Linked DNA regions of Homo sapiens. The protein of the gene in region 4 interacts with the protein of the main gene of each other region in a pairwise test. Each region holds a gene or a part of one and is shown on either strand. Other genes may lie near its edges.

What was found. The genes of interacting proteins can lie anywhere in the genome.
Region 1: the proteins of ECSIT (region 4) and BLMH interact in a two-hybrid assay, tested with the Homo sapiens proteins (one study listed by BioGRID and IntAct).
Region 2: the proteins of ECSIT (region 4) and RNF32 interact in a two-hybrid assay, tested with the Homo sapiens proteins (one study listed by BioGRID and IntAct).
Region 3: the proteins of ECSIT (region 4) and AP1M2 interact in a two-hybrid assay, tested with the Homo sapiens proteins (one study listed by BioGRID and IntAct).

Annotation. Positions count from the first base shown.
Region 1 is NC_000017.11:30,271,445-30,274,944, forward strand, and holds part of BLMH (bleomycin hydrolase), read right to left. Parts: intron 2,754-3,500; coding exon 2,598-2,753; intron 1,456-2,597; coding exon 1,297-1,455; intron 1,185-1,296; coding exon 1,117-1,184; intron 1-1,116. UniProt on the Homo sapiens protein: The normal physiological role of BLM hydrolase is unknown, but it catalyzes the inactivation of the antitumor drug BLM (a glycopeptide) by hydrolyzing the carboxamide bond of its B-aminoalaninamide moiety thus protecting normal and malignant cells from BLM toxicity.
Region 2 is NC_000007.14:156,671,774-156,674,701, forward strand, and holds part of RNF32 (RING finger protein 32), read left to right. Parts: intron 1-2,928. UniProt on the Homo sapiens protein: May play a role in sperm formation.
Region 3 is NC_000019.10:10,577,313-10,580,812, forward strand, and holds part of AP1M2 (AP-1 complex subunit mu-2), read right to left. Parts: intron 2,553-3,500; coding exon of another isoform or gene 2,547-2,552; coding exon 2,404-2,546; intron 1,652-2,403; coding exon 1,580-1,651; intron 45-1,579; coding exon 1-44. UniProt on the Homo sapiens protein: Subunit of clathrin-associated adaptor protein complex 1 that plays a role in protein sorting in the trans-Golgi network (TGN) and endosomes.
Region 4 is NC_000019.10:11,508,782-11,512,134, forward strand, and holds part of ECSIT (evolutionarily conserved signaling intermediate in Toll pathway, mitochondrial isoform 1 precursor), read right to left. Parts: intron 1-3,353.

The sequences.
Region 1 (3,500 bases), on a different chromosome or scaffold from region 4:
TTTTGGTTGTAAAAGGAATTCAGAAGAAACTGAAGGGGCTCAACAGCTCCAAATAAATAAGGCTCTAGCTGTAGCTCTTCAGAAAGAATATGGAACATGCAGAACTTAGTCTCTCAGTGGGAGTCCATTCTCTATGTGTCACAAGAGTATGCAGGAAAAAAAGGAGATGATTAAACATAAATTCTCCACATCAGAAGCTGACAAGTTTACATTGTCATTTAGGCAAGAAAACTTTAAAAAATAATGAAAAAAGCGTTTGAAGTAACTTCTTAGAAAACTGATCTCTTTTGAGCTGGTGGAACCAACCAGTTTCTGAATTCATTTAAATCACTGCTGATTAAAATTTAAATAAATAATGTCCAAAATATTGGGGAATATTTTTGCATAAGCACTACACTCACATTGTTAAATACAAAGAAACAAAAGGCAAAATACATGTGAGAGAGGTCCTTGCATGTTCTAGTTAGTGTGAGAGACACACTTGGGAGTTGCATGTACCTGTTTTCAAAAATTTTTTAAACCTCATTAATTCTTTTTTTTAGCAGATTTCTCTATCAAGATATTTACTCAACTTCCTACAAGTAACAACTATTTATAAGTAACCCTAAAATAGAGAATGGTGAACAGTCAAGGAATCCTATATGATTTAGTTTACAAATTAACCTTCATTGTCATAAATGACCAGGAGGAATGCTATAAAGTATGCATGCAAATTAGTCCCACTTGTCACAATGACAAAATACAAAGTTACCAAAGTAACATAGCAAACGGGGGCTCTGGAAAATCTTTCATTACACTCCCAAATGCACTGAACACATTTCCGCAATAGTCAATTATTTTTTTAAAGTGTCTTTCTCATAGAGGATGGCTTTTTAGGAACGCCCAACGATTTCCACTCAGATAGAAAGTGGGATTTTGATGTCCTGGGTTAGAGTGTTTAAGTATGTGGAGTTTCTGCTATGAGTCCTCAAACTCTAAAGGATGCAAAGAAAGAGACGCGCCCTTAGGTCAACCTTCATCTTTGGATGAACCTCGGCAGAGTCATTTTGTACCAACAGCACACTCCAACAGCAACAACCCACAAATGACTTTCCATTTTAAATTTCCTGCACTCACAGATTCATGTCACTGAGGCCCAGCTTGCTATTGAAGTGTTTTCCAACATCACAGCCAAACCACACAGCCTAGAAACAGAAGAAAGAGGAAGAAAGTCAACATAAACCCCATCTTCCTATTATACCAAAGAAGTAAAAGATGTTTTAACCCCAATGTGCAAAATACAGAAACAATACCAACCTCTCCATCTTTGATGGAGGCAGCAACCATCTTTTTCAGGAAGTCAATGGGCTGGTTGTTGTATAGAGTTTTTCTCCCTCCAACCATATTGCTTAAGTATTCCACTGTGTAAAGTTTGTTGTACTTGTGCTGGGGCCTAGGGTCATTCACTAAACAAATCTATCAAGATCAAGAACACATTAATTAGGGCACAAAACCAGGAATGTCAAGCAACACACAGCTCTCCTCTAGGTTCATGTTTCCATCAAGCTCATCATCTCTGCCTACAAGCTAAGTACTACAGCCACATTGTTAAGTAACAAAGAAACACAAGGTGGCAAAATACATGTGAGAGAGGTCCTTGCTTATTCTAATTCGCGTAAGAGACACAATTAGGAGGTGCATCTACCTGTTTTTCCTACTAGCAAGAACTGCTCCAAAAGCAATTTTTTTTTTTTTTTTTTTGAGACAGAATCTCACTCTGTCGCCCAGGCTGGAGTGCAATGGCGCCATCTCGGCTCACTGCAACCTCCGCCTCCCAGGTTCAAGTGATTCTCCTGCTTCAGCCTCCCAAGTAGCTGGGATTACAGATGTGCGCCACCATGCCTGGCTAATTTTTGTATTTTTAGTAGAGACGGAGTTTCACCATGTTGGCCAGGCTGGTCTCGAACTCCCGAACTCAGGTGATCCACTCACCACAGCCTCCCAGTGTGCTGGGATTACAGGCATGAGCCACCGCACCCGGCCCTCAAAACTCATTCTGAAAAATAACATGCACTGAGTAAGAAAAATTGGAGAGCTAATCACAAGGCCCCTGTTCTCAAGTTACAAGACAGGCATCTGCTTGGAAGAGGATCAAGAAGCCAATAAAAGGAAGAGGCTCTGATCCTCCTACTAGGCAGATGAGGAAGACCTAAAGGGAACAGGAAAAACTAAGATTACTCCCTTCAACAGGAGAGTTCCCCGAGGGGACCTCAGTGCAAAAGTGCTCTGAATCCACGATAAGAAATACCCAACACACTTTCATTGTTTTGCACTTGAGAATGATTCTGGTCCTATACAGGGGCGCATGTGGGAATTAAAATGACTGCTGGCTTACAGTTTAAAAAGTCTCTGAAGAGGAACATTGTGGAAAAGCTGATAAATCCTGGCACCACCAACTTCATTAGCTGCATAAAATACTTCAGAGGAAGTGGGGAAAAATGTTTGTTTGCTGTCTAGTTTGATACTCATACATGCTAACCAAGAATCTTATACAATTCCCTGTGGTTAACAGCCATTTGAAAGTAAACAGCCAGTGACTACCAGTGCCATTCACCAACCTTATCTTCCATATTGAAGAGTGGCTTGACATGTTCCCTGTAAAACTCCAAGGGTGTTATGGGGCCAATTTTCTGATAATTTTTATCTTTGTCTCGATATTCCCAGGTGAATGTCTCTGGTGGATTACCCAAACAGATGCACACCACTCGGAATATCTGGAAGAGAGGAGGAGGAAAGGCGAGCAATGGTTAGGGGGAAATGTTATTTTTTTCACCTCTTCATTTTCCTTAAGCTTAGGAAACACAAGAAGTTAGTGGCTAAATTCAAGCTAAAAATTTCACAAGAAATCTAATACTGCGTCAAAAACTGGAAAGCCGATGTCTGAGATTTGTTATCAGTCAACTTATGAGTTCTCAAATAAACACTGTGAACAATGCGATTCTGAAATGTTAACATTTAGTGCTTAGTACTTGTCCTGAAAATTTAAACTTCCTTAGCCAAGAATCTGTCTACCATTGATACCCAGCAAGATCTGAGTTGCTGCTCTGATTATTTTTCAAGTAACCAAAAAATGACAAATTTTATAAATGGATTTCCTTCCCTTTATACATTGATGTTTTCCTTATTACAACAGGGGTCTCTAGTCATAGGAAAGTAACTAATTTTTCAGCTGGAGTTGGATGACAATGCCTGTTAAAAGTATTACTAGAAGAGGAGGGCCAGGTGCAGTGGTTCATGCCTGTAATCCCAGTACTTTGGGAAGCTGAGGTTGGAGGATCCCTTGAACCCAGGAGTTCAAGACCAGCCTGGATAACATAGTGAAACCTCATCTTAAAAAAGAAAAAAATTAGCTGGACGTGGTGGCTCATGCCTGTAGTCCCAGGTGCTCAAGAGGCTGAGGAGGGAGGATCGCTTGAGCCCAGGAGGCAGAAGCTTCAGTGAGCCATGATCGTGCCACTACA
Region 2 (2,928 bases), on a different chromosome or scaffold from region 4:
ACTTGAAGAAACTTAAGTCGTGTAGAGTATGTTCCCTGACCACGGTGCAGCTGAGGCTAGAAATAAATTTTTTTTAAAAAAATAGAACTATCTCACGTTTGAAAATAAACGGTTCTAAATAACGTATTAATCGAAGACAAAATTATAATGGAAATGAGAAGAAATTTCAGTTGAATAGCAAAAGTACATATCAAAACTTGTGGAATGGAATATTTCATCAAAACTTGTGGAAAGGAATATTTGCGTCTGCCATGCTAGGTTTTCTTCTGTGGAATCAAACACCTGAGTGTGGAATTAGTTTGTGATTCTTATGTATATTAAAATATCCTAAGCATTTATTTGCTTTCTTGCTATATTACACCAGTTACCATTAAGACTGGAGCACTAAGTGTTAAGGGCCACCCTCCCTGAGATTTATTTGGTATATATGCAAAACTGACAAGTCTGTTTCTTTCAACAAGTGCCTACTATGGTCGGTGCGTGTACTGAGCTCTTGAGAGGGTTTAAAGGCAGGGTGTGACGACGACAGGTGCAAAACCCTTTAAAAACCCTGGATGCTATTACCAGCGTTAAGAACAGTCCTGGCCCCAGGACTAATAAAGGAGATAGGACCTGTATGCCACAGTGACTGAGGCAGAAGGAGGCAATAGGTGACATCAGTATTGGACCTCAGGGTCTTTGTCATCAATAGGGCCACTTAGGAGTCACCCAACACAGTTGTTCAGAGCATATGAGCTCTATTTCCATCTAAAGTGTTTGAAGGAAAATGTACTTTAAAAAGTCCTAATGATGCTGTCTTTGGAAGTTTATCTTGAGCTAAGTAACTCATTTATGTAACATCAGGACAGCTGGGATTGCTCCAGGCATCCTGTAGAGAGAGCGATACACTCACGTATGATAGAATATATGCACACACAGGTGACACTGTAACATAAATGCATATAGATGTACATACATATTTATATGTGGCCCGCACACTTACTCTGTTCCTCTCTCAAGTGGCTTCTGAAAGCGCACGCACAGCGATACCCATGCTTGGAGTTGGGAGGTGACACCTCCAGGAATGATAACTAATGCTGTGTTAAATAACTTTGCATATTTAAAAATGTGATCGGTAACTTCTATGACCGTGGTTCTTAAACCTGAATGGGCCTCAGAATCACCTGGAGGGCTGTAAAGCATATCGCAGGGCTCACCCCGCGGACTGTGGCCTCGGCAGGCCCGGGGCAAAGCCTGAAAAGCTCTGCTTTTCTCACAGATTCCCAGGAGCTGAGGCTGCGGGGTCTGGGCCCCACCTTGAGAATAAACACCCAGATCATATCGATCATTTCATTCAATTGATCAGTCATTCCAAATAGTACTTTTATGTCCAAAACTAATCTCAGAACATACCTCACAAGTTGAAACACTTTGCAAGGTCTGGACTAGAATGTGACCCTTTTTCTGAGGTATAATTTTGAAGGAAGAAAAGATCTTGCTTTTCAGGCATATGTGGAAAGTATCTCACACTTAAAAACAATTTACAGAAAACCTGAATTACAAAGCATCAATTGGAGGTAACTGTGTATATTTCCAAGTAATTTTTCCTTTTACAATGTATAGAGAACTCTTCTACTTTCAATAATTTATTTAGATATTATTAGATATTTGAAAGGCCAAGGAATAAAGAAAATTAAAATTAAAGCCTTAGGAAACGTTACCGATTCAAGACCCTAAATTAAGATACAGCTGCTTGGCAATTATAATTACATTCAGAGTGAAAGAGAATTTGACTCATAAATAGAAAAGCAGCTTCCACCAGGCTTCCAAGTACGGCTAATCCCAAAACACAGGTGCCTGGAAGATCCTCAGCCACCCCCTTCATTCAAACCCCAACCCTTGTGGACTGCCTGCTGTGTTCACAGAATGTTCTTTACTCAAAAGGACCTCTCATCCTTAAAGCCAATACTCATTCTTCTAACATCCCAGGGAGAAAGGCAGCTCATAGTCTCCACAGCACTCGACCCTGCGCTGTCTCACGATCTTTTTGCAGAAGGGAGAGAATTGGAAGAGAACTCCATGTCCTCAAAGGCACCTTCAGAAGTCTGGTGATTTAAATACACACTACGTTCTGCCAGGTTGCTCCACATTAATAAAAAAAAAAAAAAAAGAAAAAGTGAACGTGAGGACTCCAGTAGACTAGAATATTTGAAACCTGGACAGTCATGGACCATCCAAAATGCATTTTCCCCATCACATATCTAAATGTGTGAGATCTCCACGGGACTTGTTCATTTCATCCTTCTTTGTGCTTCAAGCCGGATTCCATGAAGCAGATGTAACTGCTGAATCGGCACTTCTCACTGCTGGACAAATAACCCCCCGAATTTCAGTGACTGAAAGCCAGAGCTTCGGTCTCATAGGACAGTTCAGGTGTCCTGGCTTGCAGGCAACATGCCAGCCTGTGGGGCTCGGGAACTGTCTCCCTCTGCCCTTTATCTGCCACCCCCCGGGCCTGGAGAACACCCAGAAGAGACATGAGCCACGTCCATCTGGAAGAACTACTTCACGTGGCCCCACCTGGGCATGGGGGAATGGGAAATGTCATCTCTGGGTGAGCCACAGCTCTGTACTTGAAAGGACAAGCAAGAGGGCAGGAAGTGTGGCTGACAGTCACCATTGGCACAACCTTTTACACACCTTATTCTCCTTTGCTTTACACTCTTCACATGTACTAAAAAGGAGCCGCTGGTGTGGCCCTGAATGAGCCACCTACCCGTGCCTCAGATGACACTGGTGGCCACTCTGTAATGACTCAGACCTTTCTAGTGTAGGATGGCTTGAGCCCGGGAGGCCGAGGCTGAGTGAGCATTGATGGCCCCAAGCACTCCAGTTTGGGTGACAGAGCGAGATGCTGTCTCCACCAAACCAAACAAAAATACCAAAAAA
Region 3 (3,500 bases), 930 kb from region 4:
TCCACACCGTTGGCCACTGACTGTTTCTTAAACTGCCCCTTGGCCTGTCAGGGGAGCGAGCATGGGGCACGAAGAATTCGCTTGCTCATCCTTCAAATATTTACCAAGCCCTTTTTTTTTTTTTTTTTTTTTTTTTTTTGAGACGGAGTCTCACTCTGTCGCCCAGGCTGGAGTGCAGTGGCGCGATCTCGGCTGGCTGTAAGCTCCGCCTCCCAGGTTCACGCCATTCTCCTACCTCAGCCTCCTGAGCAGCTGGGACTACAGGCACCCGCCAGCACGCCCAGCTAATTTTTTTTGTATTCTTAGTAGAGACGGGGTTTCAGCATGTTAGCCAGGATGTTCTCGATCTCCTGACCTCGTGATCCGCCCACCCCGGCCTCTCAAAGTGCTGGGATTACAGGCGTGAGCCACCATGCTTGGCCTTTTTTTTTTTTTTTTTTTTTAGACGGAGTCTCTCTCTGTCACCCAGGCTGGAGTGCAGTGGCACAATCTCCGCTCACGGCAACCTCCGCCTCCTGGGTTCAAGCAATTCTCCTGCCTCAGCCTCCCAAGTAGGTGGGATTACAGGCATGTGCCACCACGCCCTGCTAATTTTGTATTTTTAGTAGAGACAGCGTTTCTCCATGTTGGTCAGGCTGGTCTGGAACGCCTGACCTCAGGTGATCCTACTGCCTCCGCCTCCCAACATGCTGGGATTACAGGTATGAACCACTGCACCCAGCCTGAAGGGGTCATTTTGAATCAGGCAAAGGTGTATGGTGCTGTCCACATGGAAGGCACCAAGAACAGGGCTTCTCGAGCCTCATGGGTGTGGGCCTGAGTTCTAACAGTTGTTGGCTGTGTATCTGCAGGCAAATGCCTTAACTTCTGTGTGCCTCAGTTTCCTCATCTGTAAAATGGACAGGATAAGGGTCCCCACCTTAGGATTGTGGAGGCCTGGGCTGAGAGGGCATATGAAAGGCTTGTTGAAAAAAGCCGGGGGTGGTGGGCCACACCTGTAATCCCAGCACTTGGGGAGATGGAGGCAGGCGTGGCGGCAGGAGCCTGTAATCCCAGCTGCTCGGGAGGCTGAGGTAGGAGAATGGCATGAACCCAGGAGGCAGAGGTTGCGGTGAGCTGAGATCACACCACTGCACTCCAGCCCGAGTGACAGAGGGAGACTCTTTCTCAAAAAACAAACGAACAAACAAACAAAAAAACCCTTCAGTCCATCACAGGAGAGTTATTATTTTATTTGATAACAGATTTTTTTTTTCTTTTTTCTTTTTGGAGATGGGGTCTAGCTCTGTCATCCAGGCTAGAGTCCTTGTCTCACTACAACCTCCTCCTCCTGGACTCAAGCAATCCTCCCACCTCAGCCTCCCAACTAACTGGCACTACAGGCACTCACCACTTTACCAGGCTAATTTTTGTATTTTTTGTAGAAACAGGGTTTCGCCCTGTTGCCCAGGCTGGTCTCAAAGTCCTGGGCTTAAGTGATCTAACCACCCCGGCCTCCCAAAGTGCTGGGATTACAGGTGTGAGCCACCGCACCCACCCGAGATCATGCATTGTTAATAAGCATTCCCCCAAGGCCCACCTTGACCATGATCTCCACGCGGCTGTGGGAGAACTTCTCAATGACAGACTCAATCCAGATCAGTGGCTTGACCTGTGGGAAGAAGAAGGGGAGAGTTCTTGGAGACTCCATGTTGACTCTCTTCTTTTTTTTTTTTTTTTTTTCTTTCTTTGAGACAGAGTCTCGCTTCTTCGCCCAGGCTGAAGTGCCATGGCGTGATCTTGGCTCACTGCAACCTGCACCTCCTGGACTAAAGCAATTCTCGGCCGGGAGCGGTGGCTCACGCCTGTAATCCCAGCACTTTGGGAGGCCAAGGTGGGCGGATCACGAGGTCAGGAGATCGAGACCATCCTGGCTAACACGGCGAAACCCCGTCTCTACTAAAAATGCAAAAAATTAGCTGGACACGGTGGCATGCGCCTATAGTCCCAGCTACTCGGGACGCTGAGGCAGGAGAATGGCGTGAACCTGGGAGGCGGAGCTTGCAGTGAGCCGAGATAGCGCTACTGCACTCCAGCCTGGGTGAAAGAGCCAGACTCCGTCTCAAAAAAATAATAATAATAAAAATTAAAAAAAACAAATAAAGCAATTCTCCTGCCTCAGCCTCCCCAGTACCTGGGATTACAGCATGTGCCACCATGCCCAGCTAATTTTTGTATTTTTAGTAGAGACAGGGCTTCACCCTGTTGGCCAGGCTGGTCTCGAACTCCTGTCCTCAAGTGATCCACCCGACTCAGCCTCCAAAATTGTTGGGATTACAGGCGTGAGCCACTGCGCTGGGCCCAGGGTCGCTCTTCAGCCTACCCCAACCTACTCCACCCAGATGGGGCTGGACCCTGCCTCACCTGGGTGCTGAGGCGGTATGACATGAGCTCAAAGTCACCATCAGGCGGGATGAAGGAGATGGTGCGGTCGTTGTCAAAGCGAGAGAGCCGCACGCACTGGTGGAATTTTACATCCTCCAGCTCTACTGATTTGTTCTTGCTGCCTGAAACTCAGAGTGGAGAGTGGAGAGTGACCCTGGGAACCAGGAAAGGATCCCTATCCCCACCTTTCCTGCCGACCACTGTCACCTATTTCACATATGGGGAAACTGGGGCCCAGAGAGAATGAGCAAAAACTGGCACAGTAGAGCTGGAATCTGAACCTAGTATCTGTACAGGATCTGGCTTGGTTTTTTTTTTTTTTTTTTTTTTTTTGAGACAGAGTTTCACTCTTGTTGCCCAGACTGGAGTGCGATGGCACGTCTTGGCTCACCGCAACCTCCACCTCCCGAGTTCAAGCCATTCTCCTGCCTCAGCCTACTGAGTAGATAGGATTACAGGAATGTGCTACCACCCCCGGCTAATTTTGTATTTTTAGTAGAGACGGGGTTTCTCCATGTTGGTCAGGCTGGTCTCAAATTCCCAACCTCAGGTGATCCTCCCTCCTCGGCCTCCCAAAGTGCTGGGATTACAGGCGTGAGCCACTGTATACCCGGCAGTGTCTGGCTTTTAAATATGATGCTGAGGCCTGGCGTGGTGGCTCACGCCTGTAATCCCCGAACTATGGGAGGCTGAGATGGGCGGATCACAAGGTAAAGAGATCGAGACCATCCTGGCCAACATGGTGAAACCTCGTCTCCACTAAAAATACAAAAAAAATTAGCTGGGCGTGGTGGCTGGTGCCTATAGTCCCAGCTACTCAGGAGGCTGAGGCAGGAGAATAGCTTGAACCCAGGAGGCGGAGGTTGCAGTGAGCTGAGATCATGCCACTGCACTCCAGCCGGGTGACGGAGCGAGACTCCATCTTAAATCAATCAATCAGTCAATAAATAAGATGCTGAGCCAGGCACAGTAGTTCACACCTGTAATCCTAGCACTTTGGGAGGATTGCTTGAGGCCAGGAGTTTAGACCAGACTGGGCAACATAGCGAGACCCCCGTCTCTATAAAAAATTTAAA
Region 4 (3,353 bases):
GGCCTCAGGTGATCCGCCTGCCTTGGCCTCCCAAAGCACTAGGATTATGGGCATGAACCTAACTTTGGGTGGTTGTAAAATATGTAGCACAGTCCCTGGCAAATAATAAGTGCTCAGTGCTTGTGAATTAAAAAAAGAAAAATAACTTCACATATACAGAATATCCCAGGAAGGAGACACTAGAAGCAAATGATAGCTTTCACCTCTGTGGAGGACAGGGTGGGAAGGAATACCTTTTTTATCTTTTAAAATTTTATACCTTGAACATAATTCAAAAACACTAGACAATTTTTTTTTTTTTTTTTTGGGACAGAGTTTCGCTCTTGTTGCCTAGGCTGGAGTGCAATGGGGCTTGATCTCAGCTCACCGCAACCTCCACCTCCTGGGTTCAAGTGATTCTGCTGCCTCAGCCTCCCGAGTAGCTGGGATTACAGGCATGCACCACCACGTCTGGCTAATGTCTGTATTTTTAGTAGAGACAGGGTTTCTCCATGTTGGTCAGGCTGGTCTCAAACTCCCAACCTCAGGTGATCCACCTGCCTCAGCCTCCCAAAGCATTGGGATTACAGGCATAAGCCACTGCGCCCCGCTGACAAAGTTTTTTTTTTTTTAACAAAATGCACTTGCTTTTGAAACAAAACAGTGGACAGCTATTAGAACATATATCATTCATCCTTTCAAGTTAAAAAAAATTGAGATGAGCAGGCCGGGCGCAGTGGCTCATGCCTGTAATCCCAGCACTTTGGGAGGCCGAGGGTGGTGGATCACTTGAGGCCAGGAGTTCAAGACCAGCCTGGCCAACATGGTGAAACCCCGTCTCTACTAGAAATACAAAAATTAGCCAGGCGTGGTGGCACACGCCTGTAGTCCCTGCTACATGGGAGGCTGAGGCACAAGAATTGCTTGAACCTGGGAGGAGGAGGTTGTAGTGAGCCGAGATTGTGCCACTGCACTCCAGCATGGGCGACAGAGCAAGGCTCTGTCTCAAAAAAACAACAAAAAAATTTGAGATGGATCAGTGACTTCTAGTTGTATTAAATGAAATTTGTAAAAGGCAAGGTACATGTATATAATGCCCTGCTACTAAAGAAACTTTTTTTTTTTTGAGATGGAGTTTCGCTCTTGTTGCCCAGGCTGGAGTGCAATGGCGCGATCTCGGCTCACTGCAACCTCCACCTCCTGGGTTCAAGTGATTCTCCTGCCTCACCCTCGCAAGTAGCTAGGATTACAGGCATGCACCACCATGCCTGGATAATTCTTTTTGTATTTTTAGTAGAGACGAGGTTTCTCCATGTTGGTCAGGCTGGTCTCGAACTCCCAACCTCTGGTGATCTGCCTGCCTCGGCCTTCCAAAGTGCTGGGATTACAGGCGTAAGCCACCATGCCTGGCTAAAGAACTTCTTTTTTTTAAACAGACAGGATCTTGCTCTGTCACCCAGTCTGGTGTGCAGTGGTATGATCACGGCTCACTACAGACTTGACTTCCTGAGTTCAAGCCACCCTCCTGCCTCAGCCTCCTGAGTAGCTGGGGCTACAGGTGTGCACCACCACTCCCAGCTAATTTTCGTATTTTTTTGGTAGAGATGGGGTCTTGCCATGTTGCCCAGGCTGGTCTCGAACTCCTGGGCTCAAGCAATCCATCTGCCTCAGCCTCCCAAAGTGCTGGGATTACAGGCATGAGCCACTGTGCCTGGCTGTATTTTACTCCATAAGACGGGGGAGAAGGATATTTAAATACAAAGGATACAGATGCCAAAAAAAAAAAGAGAGAGAGAGAGAGAGATCTGCTTGCAAATGTATAGAACCTCTCTGGAAGGAGACATGGAAATAGTCACCTCTGGGGAGGGAGACGGGCGGCGTCAGGGGCAGCGCACGGGGCCTGGGTAGAAGCAGAGGACTCGTCACTGTGTGCTTTTACATGCTGTTTGGCTTTTTAGTGCATTGCTTTGCAAAATGAAGAAATGAACTAAAAACAACCCTCCCCCCCACATTCTGCTGCTGGTCTCAAGCCATCTCTCACCTGGACCCACGACCCTGGTCCCCTAGCCCCTCTCCCCATCCAACAGCATCCACACGGCTGCCAGGAGACACGTTTCCAATTGCAGATTCTTCCAGAAACATGATTCCAACCCGATTCCTTCTTCTTAAATCTCTGCCCCCCCACCCCCGGCATAGCTCTCCCCACCAACCAAGAGGTTTGAGATCAAGCTCTTTAATCAGGTGCCCCCACTCACTGCACCGCATTTCCTGGTACACACTGCTCCCTCTGCCCAGCGTCCTCTGCTCTCCTTACCTCCCCCAGGAAGCCCCACCTGCCCACTCGGCTCCCACAGCACCCCGGGCTTCTCCATCTCAGAACCACTGGCTCTTAAGGAAACTGTTATCTGTCCAGGACCACATGACAAGTGCTGTGAGGGGCTCTCTTTGGATCCCTTGTGTGATCTGGCATGAGTGGGGGCTCCCAGGACACTGAGTTGAGGGTGTTACTCCACTCAGTCATTCAACAAACCACTGCCAAGTGTCAGCTTTGCACCAAATCCTGTGCTCAGCCTTGGGAGACAGGAGGGAGACTGAGTCATGGTGAATGAGGAACCAAGCCAAGCACGGTGAAGGGGTGGTGCCTTGGCCAGGGAGGTCAGGAAGGGCATCCTGATTAGGAACAGTGGAGCTGAGACCGGAATAACATGAAGTCCATGGGGAACAGTGTTCCTGGCAGAAGGAACAGAGAACGCAAAGCCCTGTGGTGAGAATTGGCACAGAAAATAAGGAAGATGCCTAGAATGTAGCAAGTGTTGGGAGAAGGATGGGAGGGTGCTATGGTCTGAATGTTTATGGCCCCCTGAAATTCATATGTTGCAATCTATCTACAATGCAATAGGATTAAGAGGTCAGGCCTTTGAGAGGAGAGGCACTTAGATCATAAGGGCTCTGCCTTCATGAATGAGATTAGTCCCCTTATAAAAAAGGTCTTGGCCGGGCACAGTGGCTCACGCGTGTAATCCCAGCACTTTGGGAGGCCGAGGTGGGCAGATCATGAGGTCAGGAGATCAAGACCAGCCTGGCCAACATGGTAAAACCCCGTTTCTACTAAAAATACAAAAATTAGCTGGGCCTGGTGGTGCATGCCTGTAATCCCAGCTACTTGGGAGGCTGAGGCAGGAGAATCGCTTGAACCCGGGAGTCAGAGTTGCAGTGAGCTGAGATGGCGCCACAGCACTCCAGCCTGGCGACAGAGCGAGACTCCATCTCAAAAAAAAAACAAACAAACAAAGGTCTGAGGGGGCCAGGCATGGTGGCTCATGCTTGCAATCCCAGTACTTTGGGAGGCTAAGGTGGGTGGATCGCTTGAGCTC